Regions from separate parts of the Homo sapiens genome. Here region 1 is linked to region 2. The links come from fine-mapping of genetic effects on plasma protein levels. A gene starts in region 2. The other region holds a variant in brackets. All regions are shown on one strand. Distances are from middle to middle. Region 1 overlaps PDGFRB (platelet derived growth factor receptor beta). Region 2 holds the start of PDGFRB (platelet derived growth factor receptor beta).

Region 1 (5,260 bases), 30 kb before region 2:
CTCTGAGGAGGGGAAGAGGCCAGGGTAGGGGGAAGCAGGCCGAGGAGGCCAGGGAGAGGAACGCTCTTTCCCAAACCAGACCCAGACTCGGGAGCAGTGCCTGCTGCAGTGTGATGGCCCCTCTAGTGCCTGCAAATCAGCATCAGGCCACCCTGGGAGAGGCTAAGTGTGTGGGGAGGGGCAGGGAGAGGTGAAGGCCCAGATGTGGAGGGCTCCAAGGACTACTCACATTTAAGCATCTTGACGGCCACTTTCATCGTGGCCTGAGAATGGCTCAGGCCATGAGCCGTGGCCTCCACCACCTGCCCAAAGGCCCCAGAGCCGAGGGTGCGTCCTGGTGCAGAGATGATCCATTAGCTCCTGGCCTACCAGGAAGCTGCACCGCTCCCCCAGCTGCCCCCCTCCCCCCACTCCCCTACCCCCGGCCGCTATCACCCTTCCTGCCCAGTGAGGGGAAAGAGCCACTCTCTTAGGTCAACCTAGACATTACTTAAACCACCTTGGACTCAGGATATTCCCTAAACACACTCCTGCAACCACAATACCTCCCTGTCTTTCCTGGTATCTCATCTAAGTCCTGCCTGCTTTCTGCCCCATCTTTAATCTCTGGAAAGTTTCTTCCCTCCCAAGGGAGCACGCTTCTCTGTACCTCCTCAGCTTCCCCAGCCAGACCAGGCCTGCTACTCAGCCTGTCCTCAATCCTTCCACTTTTGCCACATAGGGATCCCGTCTCACAGGGTCACAGGATCATAGAACCTCAATGCTAGGCAGTTCCTGGGGGATGGTCTTGCTCTCATTGTACATAGTAGGAGATGGAGGGCCAGAGAAGGCAAGACACCAGCCCTAGGTCTCATAGCTAGTCATGGCAAGGCTGGGACCAGACCTCAGAGAGTCTTCCCACCCAACTTGAGTCCCCACACTGCCACATGAGGCCTCTCAGGACTGACCCAGCACAAGCTGGTCCCGCGGCAGCTCCCACGTGGAGTCATAGGGCAGCTGCATGGGGTCCACGTAGATGTACTCATGGCCGTCAGAGCTCACAGACTCAATCACCTTCCATCGGATCTCGTAACGTGGCTTCTGGAGGACCAACCCCAGGAATTAGTTATCAGAGGGAGTCTCAGGCCCTGAGCCCCATTAGGTTCGTCCGTCTAGGACACATGGGGCAGGAGACCCTGAGGCCCAGAGAGGGGCAGGGGCATATTTGAAGTCACACAGCAAGTGCTCAACTGAGCCAAGGTCTTCGTGGGCTCGGAGGGAACAGGGACCAAGGGGCCCCAGAGGAGGCTTCAGGACTTGGCAGACTGAGGAGCAACTGGCAGCTGAGGGCCTGGCTCATGAGAACCTCCTCTCTAGCTTCTCTCCCAGCCTTCGCTGCTCCTCAGATGGAAGTAGTAGAGCAGGTGACCCCAGAAAGTGACACCAGGTAGGGTACTCGGCTGGATGCGGATGGCCCTCCCCAGTGCTGGGCAAGTCAGAAAGATGTAAGCTTAGAATGTTGACATCTTAAGGTGTTGGAACCACAGGACTGGAATTTTAGAAAGATGGGATCATGAGGTGCTGTAATCCTGATTCAGGAAGCTTAAAATGTTGGAATCACAGAATGGTAAAATCTCAAAGCAGAACACTGAAATTACAGACTAATAGGATCAGAATGCATTTCAGTAGAATCACAGGTTCTCCATGGGTGAGACCTGGAAGAATCCTGGAGCCCATGCAGTCCACCTCAAAGGTCCCATGCTCCATGGCTAGGATGAGAGGAATGGTGTCTCAGCAGGACCCGGGGACTTAATGACACAGTAGGGGAAGGGAATCCTGGATAGCTCGGGCCAGGCTCAGGTTGGCCCAGACTGCTGGGGGTGGAGGAAGCTGAGACAGCCAGCGTCACAAGTCCCCACCTGAGTTCCATGCTGAGCCCTGCATGTGGCCAGATCACGCAGCATTCAAGGAGGGCAGAGGGGTGGAATTTATGCAAAATAATGATGTGCCAGTCTTCACCCACTGGGCCAGGGAGGGGCTTACCTTCTGCCAAAGCATGATGAGGATGATAAGGGAGATGATGGTGAGCACCACCAGGGCCAGGATGGCTGAGATCACCACCACCTTAAAGGGCAAGGCTGGAGGCAGAGATGAGAGCAGGCCATGAGCAAACTGGGCAGCTACCCTCCCCTCACCCCATCTTTGGCATCATAGATCCCTCCGTACACATCCTGTCCAGAATAGAAGCGCCCACCTCCCCATCAGCCTGCAGTGTCAGACCCTCAGCATCTCGCTCTAGGCCACACGTTCAGACTGTCCTGTAAATACTCCATCCCCTCAGTAACTACCCCCACTCAGATCACTGCTGGCCTCCACGTCCCTTCAGCCCTGCCAGTCAGTCTGGCCTTGCTGCCAGAGCTCTGGACGGGGTGCAAATCCTGTTCTGAGTTCCTGTCCATTGCCTGGACCTCCCATTAGCCCTGGAGCCCCTGAGGGCTGGGTTGTGGCTTACCTCTCCTCTGAGTCCACACCCTTGCTGGGGCTGCCACAGCTCGGTCAGACTCCAAGCTCCATGCCTGACCGAGTGGCCGGTGGACTGAGTGAGTGGCCACTGAGGGAGCAATGGCTGAGACCCCCAGCCTGATGAATCCAGACCTCAGCACGGAGGCCACTTCTCCCCACTTCACCCAAAGGGCCCAGTTGGGGTTGGAGTGGTGACGGTAGTTAACAAAGTGGGGCTCACACTGGCCCTTACAAGCCTCGAGTCTCCTCCACCCTCAAGGCCTCAGCCTCTTCGCTGTACAGCTTCCCACTCTCCTCATCCAGCCCCGCCAGACCTGCCTCTCCCCTGCCCTGCCCTGCTGGCCACCCATGAGGTCCTATGGAACTCATTCCCTCCTCTTCTGTCCCCAATCTATGCTTCTTTGCTCCCTAGGGAGTCCTGTCCCACCTCCTCCTCCCCATCCATTGCTATAACCTCAGTCCCTAAAACCACACCTGGCACATGGTAGGTAGCTGGTACTATTTGTTGAATTACTAAGTGAATGCCATTGTTATGCTTAAAATCTTTGGATGGAGGCTGGGTGCAGTGGCTCATGCCTGTAATCCCAGCACTTTGGGAGGCCAAGGTGGGCGGATCACGAGGTCAGGAGTTCAAGACCGGCCTGGCCAATATGGTGAAATCCCATTTCTACTAAAAATACAAAAAATAGCTGGGCGTGGTGGTGGACTGCTGTCATCCCAGCTATTTGGGAGGCTGAGGCAGGAGAATTGTTTGAACCCGGGAGGCAGAGCTTGCAGTGAGCCGAGATCACACCACTGCACTCCAGCCTGGGCAACAGAGCCAGACTCCATCTTAAAAAAAAAAAAAAAAAAAAAAAAAACTTTGGATGCTTCCCCATGTTATCAGTAAAGGAAAAAGGCCAAACTCCTAAAATGGCACATAAGGCAGAGGCTTCATGACTCTACCTCTGCTTCCCTCTCCAACTTCGTCTCTCACCCCTTATCCATTCTCCCTTACCCTTACCTATCCTCGCCATGCCTTCCTCCTCAGGGTCCCAGACCAACATCCCTCTTCTCCTCCCTCCTCCCGCTCATCACACATCTCGGTCCTGGGAAGGAAGCCTGCATCTTCTAGGCAGCCATCGCTGGAGGCATGAAGGAGCCCTCTTGCAGCCATCCTAGGCCCTGTGTGCTGGTGCTCAGCTTCCCGCTCAGGCTTTAGTCACACAAAAGTGTCACATCTGCCTTGGCTCAGAGCTGGTCTTCCACTCAGGCTGTCCACACTGTCTGCCCAGATACCCACTTGCTCAGAGAATGTGTATGCATGTGTGGGAGCATGGGTGAAATGAGGGGATGAAAGAAGCCCACCCATCCACCACAGGGCAGGGGACAGGAGGCAGCTCTAGACAGGCACGTGCCTGAACATGCCCAGGGACCTGCATACACAGAGACCAAGATGCCTCACATGGCCTTTGGAGCCCTGCCTGCTCTAGATCTGCCGACCCCTGTAGCTCCATCCCATAGCACTTCCTTCCCCTTTATCTGCCACCCTTCCAGCCCCTAAGTATCCACACACTCGATCCTCCAGCCAGATTGAGTTGAACTCTTTTCATTTCTAGGAACTCATTTTGCCTCTGGGCTTTTACACAGGCCATTCCCTCTGAGTGGGACACCATTCCTTACCAGGCTAACTTCTAGTCATTTTTCAGGTTTTCACCTAAAGGTTCCTTTTCTAGAATACTTTCCTGAATCCCATAGCTGGGCATGGGACCCCTTCTCCCTCCAGGCTTTGCCCCTAATGTGGTGATCCCGGAGGGAATTGCCAAGTTCCTTGTCTGCCTTCTCTCTCTGGACTATGGGTACTAGGAGGTCCAGGCAGGGCTGAGCCCTTTGACCTTTATACTTCAATGAGAAGTTGGGTCCTCATATTTATCGAATGAAGAAGAAAGGTGAATAAATGAAGCACACTCATACAGGTGCATGTATGCATAAGGACGGGCAG[C/G]TAGATACACAAAAGCATCAAGACACTGGTAGGCATTGTTCATACGCACAGAAATTACACGTGTATGTGTACCTGCTAACAGATGTACATTGTACAGCAGGCACATGTGTACGGGAATTATGCTTGTACACTTTTCTAGAAAGGTGTGCTCCAATTATATGCTTACAGACATGCACTATGCCAGTTTGCATGCATGCAAAGGAATTGTACATGCATTGCTTGTACACATGTACAGGAATTGTGTACCCACCGGTACATGCATACAGACATACACTGTGGGGTTTAAACAGATGTCTGGGAATTAGGCATGCTCATGTACATGGCTTACAAACACGTGGTGGGTTTACATACATGGACAGGCATAGTGCACAGGTGTATGCTTATACACATACACTCTAGCTTTACAGGAGTGACTGGAGATTGGGCATTCTTCAGTAGACGATTTACATATCTACACACAGAGGATTTGCACCTATGTTCAAGGAACAGGCATGCTCATGTACATGGCTTACGACATACATATAGTATATGTACACCACACTGAAGGATATTCATATCCATGGCTTACAGACTTGTGTTTGTACACGTGTGTACCCATATTGTGTTTGCCAGAATGTGTTCCTATGCATGTACACAACAGGGTTTCACAATGCTCCTGTTTGCCCCTGGGCATGCTAACTCCTTTGGCCTGCTGTGGGTACATGGGCACATTACCAATTAGGCAGGATTAAGGTAGGGATTGGGATCGTCAGGGGCCACTGAGGCTGGGGACTCACA
Region 2 (8,668 bases):
ACCCACTGCCCACTGGGTTCTGAATCAAATGCAAGAAATGGGTGGGCATTTCAGAAGACCTTTTCATCCCTTTCTCCCTTCCCACTGCATTCAGCAGCAGCCTGTTCTGAGCCAATGCCCAGAGCACCCTCCTTTAGCCTAGAAGGCAGCTGGTCTCAGAGTCAGACTGTGGCCTGTGCCTGGAGGATGGACACGGATCTTTGGAACATACATGGTGTCCAGGTCCCTTCTGTGGGCAGAGCCTTTTGCAGGTTGCAGATTAATTTCACAGCCAAGTGTTCCAATGCAGGAGGCCAGGAGAGCAGTGGTTCTCTCAGCCAGTGGCCAGAGGTCCAGCTGTGAAGTGCAGGAACTGTGGTAAGCACCTTGCCAATGCTGTTGTCTCATGGAGCCCACACACGGTCCTGCTGCTCACAGAGAAGGAGATTGAGGCCCAGAGAGGCAAGGTGCTGCCCCGGGGTCACACAGTCAGCCAGAAACTGACTCGGGGTCAATGCATAGTCATCTGATGCCCAAGCCTGGTGCTGGTTACCCACAGCGCTCACTGCCTCCCAGCTGCGGAAGGAGCCCAGAGATGGGATGTGGGGGGTCTGAGGTTGGCCACACGGTGGATTTAAATCAAGCCAGGGCAAGCACTGGGTCTCCTGACTCTGGATCCACGGTGCTTTCCACTGCCTGCCCCACATGTGTGGGCAATTATAAGTCCCAGCTCTTCTTCCCGCAGAGGAGGGGGGCTGCTGATAACTGCTGTCTGGGAGGAGGGTGCTGACCAGATGGTCTCTTTCCTCTCTCAAGACCAAGCCAGGGCCCGGGCAGACCTTGGAGCAGTCAGACCTGAGGCTGCACTTTCTGCTGGGGAAGGTGCTGAAGCCAGGAGCAGGCTCTGCAGGAGGATGGAGATTCTTCCCTCTGACTGGGAGCTTCCCGGGGAGCACGAGGTAAGCCTTTAGAGTCAGGCAGACTTCAGCCTAAACACCACCTTAACTCACCGTATGGCCCTGGGAAAGTCACTTAGCCTCTCCAGATCTCAGCTTCCTCATCTACAAAAAGTAGGTAATAACACTGATTTCAAAAACTTGCCATGAGGACTCCAAGGTGTGTGAAGTACCAGGCTCTATGCCTGCATGAGGTAGGTGTTCAGGGACTGTATGTCCCTGAAGGCTGTGGATTCAGGGTCTCCTGCTTGGAGACAGGGGAGGACTGCATGACTTCAGAACTTGTCACTAGAGGCCTCTGTGCAATTGGGAGGTCACAGAGGGAAGCAGAGATACTCCTCCCTGCTTGCAATGGAGGAATGCTGCCTGGAGTAGCCACACGATGTCCTGGAAGGGCACCTGTGAGAAGGCTGGAGGCCTGGGTTCTAGTCTCACACTTGGGAGCAGAAGGTCTTCAGTGAGCTCCTCCTCCCTTTCACCAGGACATTTTTTCAGCCGCACTGCCTATCCAGGGCTGGGCACTGGGGGAAGAGCACAGGATGGGGAAACCTTAAACCTTTCCCCAGCAGAAAGTGCGGCCTCAGTTCTGACTGCTGGGGCCTGAACAATCTCTGATGAACAAACAGAACATAAACAGATCACCAACAGGGGAGGGCCAAGTAACATGGCTTCAGCACAAAGTGCATGGCTAGCACTTGGAAGACAGGAAGAACCTAGGAAGGCTGCCTGGAAGAGGTGGTGTATGGAATATCCCTGAAAGAAAAGTGATGAGGAAGGGCATTCCAGAAAGGGGGAAGAGGGAGGGCAAATGCCCACAAGCAGGATGGTGCGCATTCCTTCTGGGAATTCTGGGATCTGACTGGCGGGAACAAAAGGCCCAAGTTTGGAGTAATGGGGCACGGGGAGATTCCAACCTCTCCAGGCTGTGCCACTTACTAGCTGTGTGGCTACAGTTATGTGGCTGCGTGAGCCTCAAGTTCCTCATGTATAAAACGGAGGTAAAAACAGTCACTGCCTCTGGGGTTGCTGGTGAGCATTACATGAGATCAGTCTCATAAAGCACTCAGCACAGTTGCGGCGTGCAGTAAGTGTCAAGCAGTGGCAGCCTCTGTTAGGAGCTGGGACTTTCTCCAGGCACTGGGGAGCCATAGGCGGATCCTGGGCAGGGAGGTGGTGTGATTGGATTTATGCTTTAGAATGGCATGGAGAAGGGGTAGAGTCCAGAAGGAGGGAGACAACGAGGAGGCCTGAGCAGCTGCCTGGGACCAAAGGAAATGGCCCAGTGGCTGACCCCTTCTTCACAGAGGAGCCCCCAGATCTGACAGCCAGGTCCCAGCCCCCAGACCCAGCAGCATGACCGCTAGGGGGTTGCCATGGCCGCCCATCACCCTCGAACTTTCCTAGCCCTCAAACTTTTCTAGCTGCTGGGGGTTTAGAAGGATATCTTAAGAATCTAGAAAATTTGCAAATCCATTTAAATCCCCAGAGGTTGCCTGGCGGCTGACTGGCCTAAAGCCAGACTGATTCTTAGAAACAAGGCTTGGGCCAAGGAACAGCGGCTATGGTCCTGAGGTCCCCAGTCCCCTGCTTTCTGTGTACCCTGCCTACCTTCTCCCAATTCCCCTCTCCCGCTCTTCCCAGCTCTCCCCACTCCCCATTGACTGTGCTGTGCTTTGGAGGCCCCCAGTCAGCACCCAGAAACCCCTGAGGATTGTTTGATGAAGGCAGGAGCAGCAGGGATGATGAGGTGGAGGCCACTCACCCCAGAGCAGGGGAAAGGAGAAAACTGGCTCCTCCATCCCTGACATCACCCACAGTCTCCCAGCCTCCTCTCATCTTGTTTTGTTAAAAATATCTTCCCTTTTTTTTTTTTTTTTTTTTTTTACCTACTCGAAGAGATGCAGGTTAGGGCAAAGGGACAGGGCATGGGGCTGGGGTTCCCACTTTTTCCAGCACTTACCTTGCTGCTGATGGCTTCTGGTGTGGGCACAGTTCCAGGCTCTGGACAGTCACCCCCTCCAGGAAGTCCTCCTTACTGCCCTCTCCCAGTTATCAGAAAGACTGCTGGTCCCAGAGTGGGTAACAGCTGAGTAGAAGGACAGGCAGGACTGGTGCAGGCTCCTGAAGGCTCAGGAGAACAGAGGGATGGAGGAAGGGGGCTGCTGTAGGGGAGAGGAGCGGCCCAGCTTCGCCTCACTCCCCAAGCATCCTTCGGGAGGAGCAGAGCCGCCAGAGGGGCCGCCCTGGGTCTGGCTGTCTGCGTTGGGCAGGGCGAGCACAGGCTGCTGCTGGGCAGCAGGGCTGAGGGGCCGGCTCTCTCCTCCTCCTTGTTGATCTCCTCTCTGGCTCCAAGTTGCTCACAGAGCGATCCTGGGTCCCAGATAGGGCGGGCAGTCACTGCTGGCTGCTGGCAGCCTCAGGAGCTCACACCACTATGGGCTTCCATGCCCCCCCACTTCCCCCGCCACTTTGGGGGAAAGGCTGCAGGGTGGCTTCTGATTGGCCCAGCTGGGAGAAGGGGGGGCGGCGGGGCAGGGAGGGTGGACGCGTGCGTCTGTTTTCAATTTCAGTTTTTTTCCCCCTCTCTCTTTCTTTTCCCCCAAGTTTCTTGTTTTTCTTCTTTTCACTCTGCTTACTCCCTCCCATCGCCCGTTCGCTCAGGATGTGAGGGGATGCTTAGAAATTCCACAGCCCACGCCAGCCGCCAGCTGCTGAGTCACTTTTGTCAAAGAGTGGCCTCGGCCCCACTTTCCCGATGCCCATGTCGGGTGGCGGCCTCCCCTTGCCATGGCACCCAGGGAGATCATTTCTCAGTGCCTCAGTTTCCCCATCTGTAAAGGAGACTCTGATCATCTCTGTGGTTGATTCAGTCAACCTTCATTCATTGAACAAGCATACTGAGCATTTACTACATTCTAACACTGTACTGGGTGCAGGGGACAGTAGCAAGACGTGGTCCTGACCTCAGAAGCACCAGGCTAGTGAGCAAGATATTCATTGGGCAAGCAGGTGCCCGGTCGGCAGACAGGAGGCTGAGAGTGCATTTAGAAGGACCCCTAACGGAAGCCTGAGAGAATCAGAGAGCACTGCTGAGAAGAGGTGACATGGAGGAGATGGAAAGATCCTCCAAGATGATCAGCCGTTTTTCAGAAGGACAAACCAAGGCCCAGGGGTGAATTGGCACAGAGAGGGAATGTGATTTGGTCAAGGTCATCCAGCACAGATTGGATATCTCTGGATATTGACAGATACATTCCTTTTCACGTCTCAAAGCCCCTGGGGTGCAAGGAGAGGATTATTTGCCCCATTTTATAGATGGGGACACTGAGGCCCAGAGGAGCAAAATAAGCTTCCCAAGCTTACGCAGCAATGGCAGAGCTGGGGCAGAACTAGGTCTCATGAGACACATGATGGAAGAGACACAAGTCATCTGACCCCCACCCGAGACCCCTATTCCAGTGTAGATGAACCCCCTGCCCTGCTTTCTTCCTAGGTTCCCCCTGTGGCTCTTTCATTCAGTCACTCAACAAGATACTTTCTTTTTTTTTTTTTTTTTTTTTTTGAGATGGAGTCTTGCTCTGTCTCCCAGGCTGGAGTGCAATGGCGCAGTCTAGGCTCACTGCAACCTCCGCCTCCCAGGTTCAAGTGACTCTCCTGCCTCAGACTCCCAAGTAGCTGGGATTACAGGCGCACACCACCACACCTGGCTATTTTTGTATTTTTTGTAGAGACCGGGTTTCACTATGTTGGCCAGGCTGGTCTCAAACCCCTGACTTCATGATCCACCCACCTCAGCCTCCCAAAGTGCTGGGATTACAGGCTTGAGCCACCGCACCCAGCCTCAACAAGATACTTTCAAGTATCCGTTTTGTTCCATTTCCATTCTCTGGCTCTCCTTTCCTACCAGGGTCTGCCAAGACTCCTCCAGTTCCCCCAGCTGGGTCTCTTCTTCCACCCTCAGCTTCTCAGATCAGAAGACATCTCCAGTTACAGACTCCTAGCCCTCAGATGGCAAAGGGCATTATTTTAGAAGGGCATATAGAGTGGGCTTACCACCCCTGCTCCCACTACTGCACCCACAGGGCAACTGAATTCCAGAGGGTGAAGAAAGCTGTCCCAGGTGACACAGGTAGAGGCTGGCTCTGCCCTCCTTCCCTCTGCGCCGCTAAGTCTTTCCTCCTCAGCTTCCCCCAGACCCCTGTTCACAGAGCAGAGGATTTGCGTGAGCTGGGATTCCATGCCCACCACAGTCAACTATCTTGCATTTCTTGGTCTAGTCCCAATCGGGATTGCCCAGCAGAGCATCTGGGCTGGACCACATAGAAGGAGAAGTGTTCTCAGACTGGTTCCCAGCCACGGGTTGGGGACCATAAGAGTACCCCGAGAGAGGGGGCCTGGCCAGGTCTTTGTGGCAACAGGGAAATAGGGGAATGTGAAAAGATCCCACAGGCCACAAGGTCAGGCTTGCACAGGGATTTCTTGTGCCCAAAGATTCCGTCAGAAATTTACGACTCCCCTCCTAGCATCTGCCTGGGCCATTCACCTCTGAATCCTTGGCTGACCCTCTGCAGCCAGGCCAGCCTGGGGGAGGCCACGAGACACACCAACCCCCTAGTCCCCAAAGAAGCTAGTCTGGGAGTCAGAAGACCCAGCCACAGACTTATCAGGAGAACTTGAATAAGTCCCTTGCCCTGCCTGAGCCTCGGTTTCCCTATTTGTACATAACAGTTGTGGACTCACTGTGCTACAAGGCCCTTGGGATGGTCCGTCTGCAATTTCCCTTAGAGCTGGACTCTAGCAAGGGAGAGGAGGCTGGTGGGCCCTAGGGCAGGGGTACAGCTGGGGCCAGAGATGCAGCACAAAGGGGAGGGGCAGTTGGCGGTGGCTCCCCTGGGAAGCTGGCGGCCTCCAGTTTCCGGCCAGCCCAGCCGTCCTGAGGCCCATCTGGAATTACTTAGCCCCTACTGCCATTAACCCTTGGTGGGCACCAGGACTGTCACTCCTCCTCTCAACTGAGATATGGGTGGGAGGTGCAGAGCTACAGGGAGCAACCCAGGGCACTCACCAAGGGGCAAAATTGTCATGATTGACAGAGGAGGTTGGAGAGCTAGAGATAGAGCTGGGTTCGAATCCCAGCTGCTCCAGTTTCAAGCTACATGAGCTTAGGCAAGTCACTTAAACTCCTGGCCTTGGTTTCCTCCTCTGGAAAATGGAGACAAGTCAAAGACTGATTCATAAGACTCTTCGGTTTGTACAAAGGACTTAGTACATTGCCTCGAAGTGTACTAAGTGTACACTATTACTGAAATAGTGAGTTTCCTCATTCGAGCAGCATTCCATCACTGTGTCTTCCTGGGCGGAGCCTCCCTTTTCTGGGTCTTGGATTCCCCTTGTGCACTCTGCCTTCAGCGGCAATGGACGGGGCACATGGGCAGTGCAGCACCATCACCCTGGGGTGGTCAGCATGGCCCCCAGCCCCACTGTGGACAGGACAAGCTATGAACATCCTCACACCTACACAGATACTGGGAACCCAGTCCAGCCTTGGACAATGCTGTCTTGGGGAAGCCTGGGCTGAGAGTAGGTGGGCAGAGCATGGAATGTGGGGAGCCCTGCCTGAAGTGGACTGGGATGGGGTACAGTGGGAGAGGGGGGCTCTGGGCCTTAGGGTTCCACACTGCCTTCCCCCACAGCACGGTGGCACACTCAAGAGTTAAATGTCTGGACTCTGATGTTGGCAGCTCCAACCCAGCTCCACCACTTCCCAGCCATGTGACGCTGGGAGATGATATGACCTGAGCTCTCTGAGCCTCAGTACCTTCAACTGTGAAATGGGGACACATGTGCCTACCTCACAGGGTTGTGGAGAGACCTGAATAAGCCATGCCCACAGGCATTTTGTCAAGCCTCGAGCAAAACAAGAAAGTGCCACAAAAGGTGACTGATCCAGCTGGGCGCGGTGGCTCACGTCTATAATCCCAGCACTTTGGGAGGCCAAGGTGGGTGGATCACCTGAGGTCAGGAGTTTGAGACCAGCCTGGCCAACATGGAGAAACCCAGTCTCCACTAAAAATACAAAATTAGCTGGGTGTGGTGGTGCATGCCTGTAATCCCAGCTACTCGGGAGGCTGAGGCCAGAGAATTGCTTGAACCCGGGAGGCAGACGTTGTGGTGAGCTGAGATGGCGCCATTGCACTCCAGTCTGGGCAACAAGAGTGAAACTCCATCTCAAAAAAAAAAAAAAAGGTGACTGATCCTCAGGTGTTACCAAGAGCTGCTGTCATAGAAGTCCACCATCAGGGCTGGAGGGAAGCTCACCAACATGCTCATTACACAGCCGGTATGACTGAGGCCAGTGATGGAAAGGAACTTGTGCAAGGCCTTGTGATGTGTCAGCCACAGACTGGGACTGGAACCGAGGCTTTCTGTCTAGACTCATAAGCCCATGCTCTTCCCCAGAGGAGGGAACCAGGCTGAACAGACCCCCGTGCTAAGACCCCCCTCCCCCACCCACGCTTGTCAGAGCCGGAAGTTGCTGCTCTCAGTGGGGCAGGGGGAGGGAACCGGAAAGGGAGCCTGAGTGGGAGAATTCCCAGGAGGCCGCTCAGCCCTCACTCAGGCAGGGCAGCGGCCACCACATCTGGCTCTCCCACGCTCCTGGCTCTGCCCCCACTCCCAGGCTCCCCAGGCAGAGTTGTGGGGTGGGGGTGGGGGGTGATGAGGAAGCAGCACACATACCCCAGGCGCTCACACAGTCATCTTAGACGTCAGGACCCTAAGATATGTCCCTTCTGCTGGCATGGACACTGAGGCCCAGAGAGTGGAGGGGACTTGTCTGAGGTTCACGGTGGGGCTGAGGGAAGCTAGAATACAGGACTCCTGATCCCCAGCTCAGTGTCCTTCCACCCATGCATGCCCTGAGCAGAGCACGTAGATCCTTGTGCCTGTGGCTGGGGAGCCAGAGAGGCACAGAGTGGGAACTGTCCCCCTACCTCCTGGACACTCAGTGTAGTGGCTTTCTGAGTGGGCAAAAGACCAGCAGGGGCCTTGGGCCACATTCCCTCCCTAGATTCTTAGGACTGTCTTACTGAGCCAGACTGTAGCCACCGAGGTCTGCCAGGGTCCCAGGAGATAAAGGCTTCAAGACACTGCCCATTCAGCCTCTCCTTGCCCCCTTGCTGGCCTCCCTCTCAGCCCCAGGACCGTGGGCAACTTGAGTGTGTCCATCTGGTACACGCAGATGGCTCATAGATCCCCAGAAGAGCAGGGCCCTCACCCTCACTGAATACACTGGCTCCTAAGGTCTGGAGAGCACCAGAACTTTTTTGAGGGCACACAGCAGGCCTAGGGTGGGGCCTCTCCATCTAACACCCAGTTATCACTAAGATAACTGTTCCTCCAACCATCCATCCATGCGATAGAAGTTAATTGAGGACCTACTATGTGCCCTGTCCTCCTGTCCTCACAGAGTTCACAAGCAAACACCGAGGAAACCACAAATTAATAATATCAAATTGTGATGAGTGTGATGAAAGAGACAAAGAGAATAATGAGCTGGGTGGATGGGAGTTCTTGTTCAGGTACAATAGGGCTTCTGTGGGGAGGAAGCAGGCCTGTGAGGCCACACACATTCAGGAGTAGGAACAGTGTTCGAGGCAGGGGGAAAAGCATCTGCAAAAGCTTGGAGGCCAGAGAGATCTTGATGGGTTCGAACAAAGAGAAAAGAATGGTTG

Evidence for each region. PIP is the chance, under the fine-mapping model, that this variant and not a neighbour inherited with it causes the effect. The UK Biobank Pharma Proteomics Project read protein levels with antibody pairs (Olink). The fine-mapping took linkage between variants from a reference panel, not from the people measured, so its PIPs are less certain.
Region 1: its variant is fine-mapped to the plasma level of the PDGFRB protein (UK Biobank, PIP above 0.99).

Annotation. Positions count from the first base shown.
Region 1 is chr5:150,124,498-150,129,757 of GRCh38, forward strand. It overlaps PDGFRB (platelet derived growth factor receptor beta), which reads right to left. Exons shown (of 23, transcript NM_002609.4): 10 at 5,260; 11 at 2,023-2,117; 12 at 948-1,080; 13 at 230-334. Among named protein-coding and RNA genes, the nearest start is that of PDGFRB, 29 kb to the right of the region's middle. RefSeq lists an enhancer at 3,293-3,794. The variant C/G (reference allele first, on the strand shown) is at 4,484.
Region 2 is chr5:150,152,502-150,161,169 of GRCh38, forward strand. PDGFRB (platelet derived growth factor receptor beta) reads right to left here and starts at 3,344. Exons shown (of 23, transcript NM_002609.4): 1 at 2,896-3,344. RefSeq lists enhancers at 64-584, 585-1,104, 5,262-6,050, 7,569-7,638, 8,425-8,668.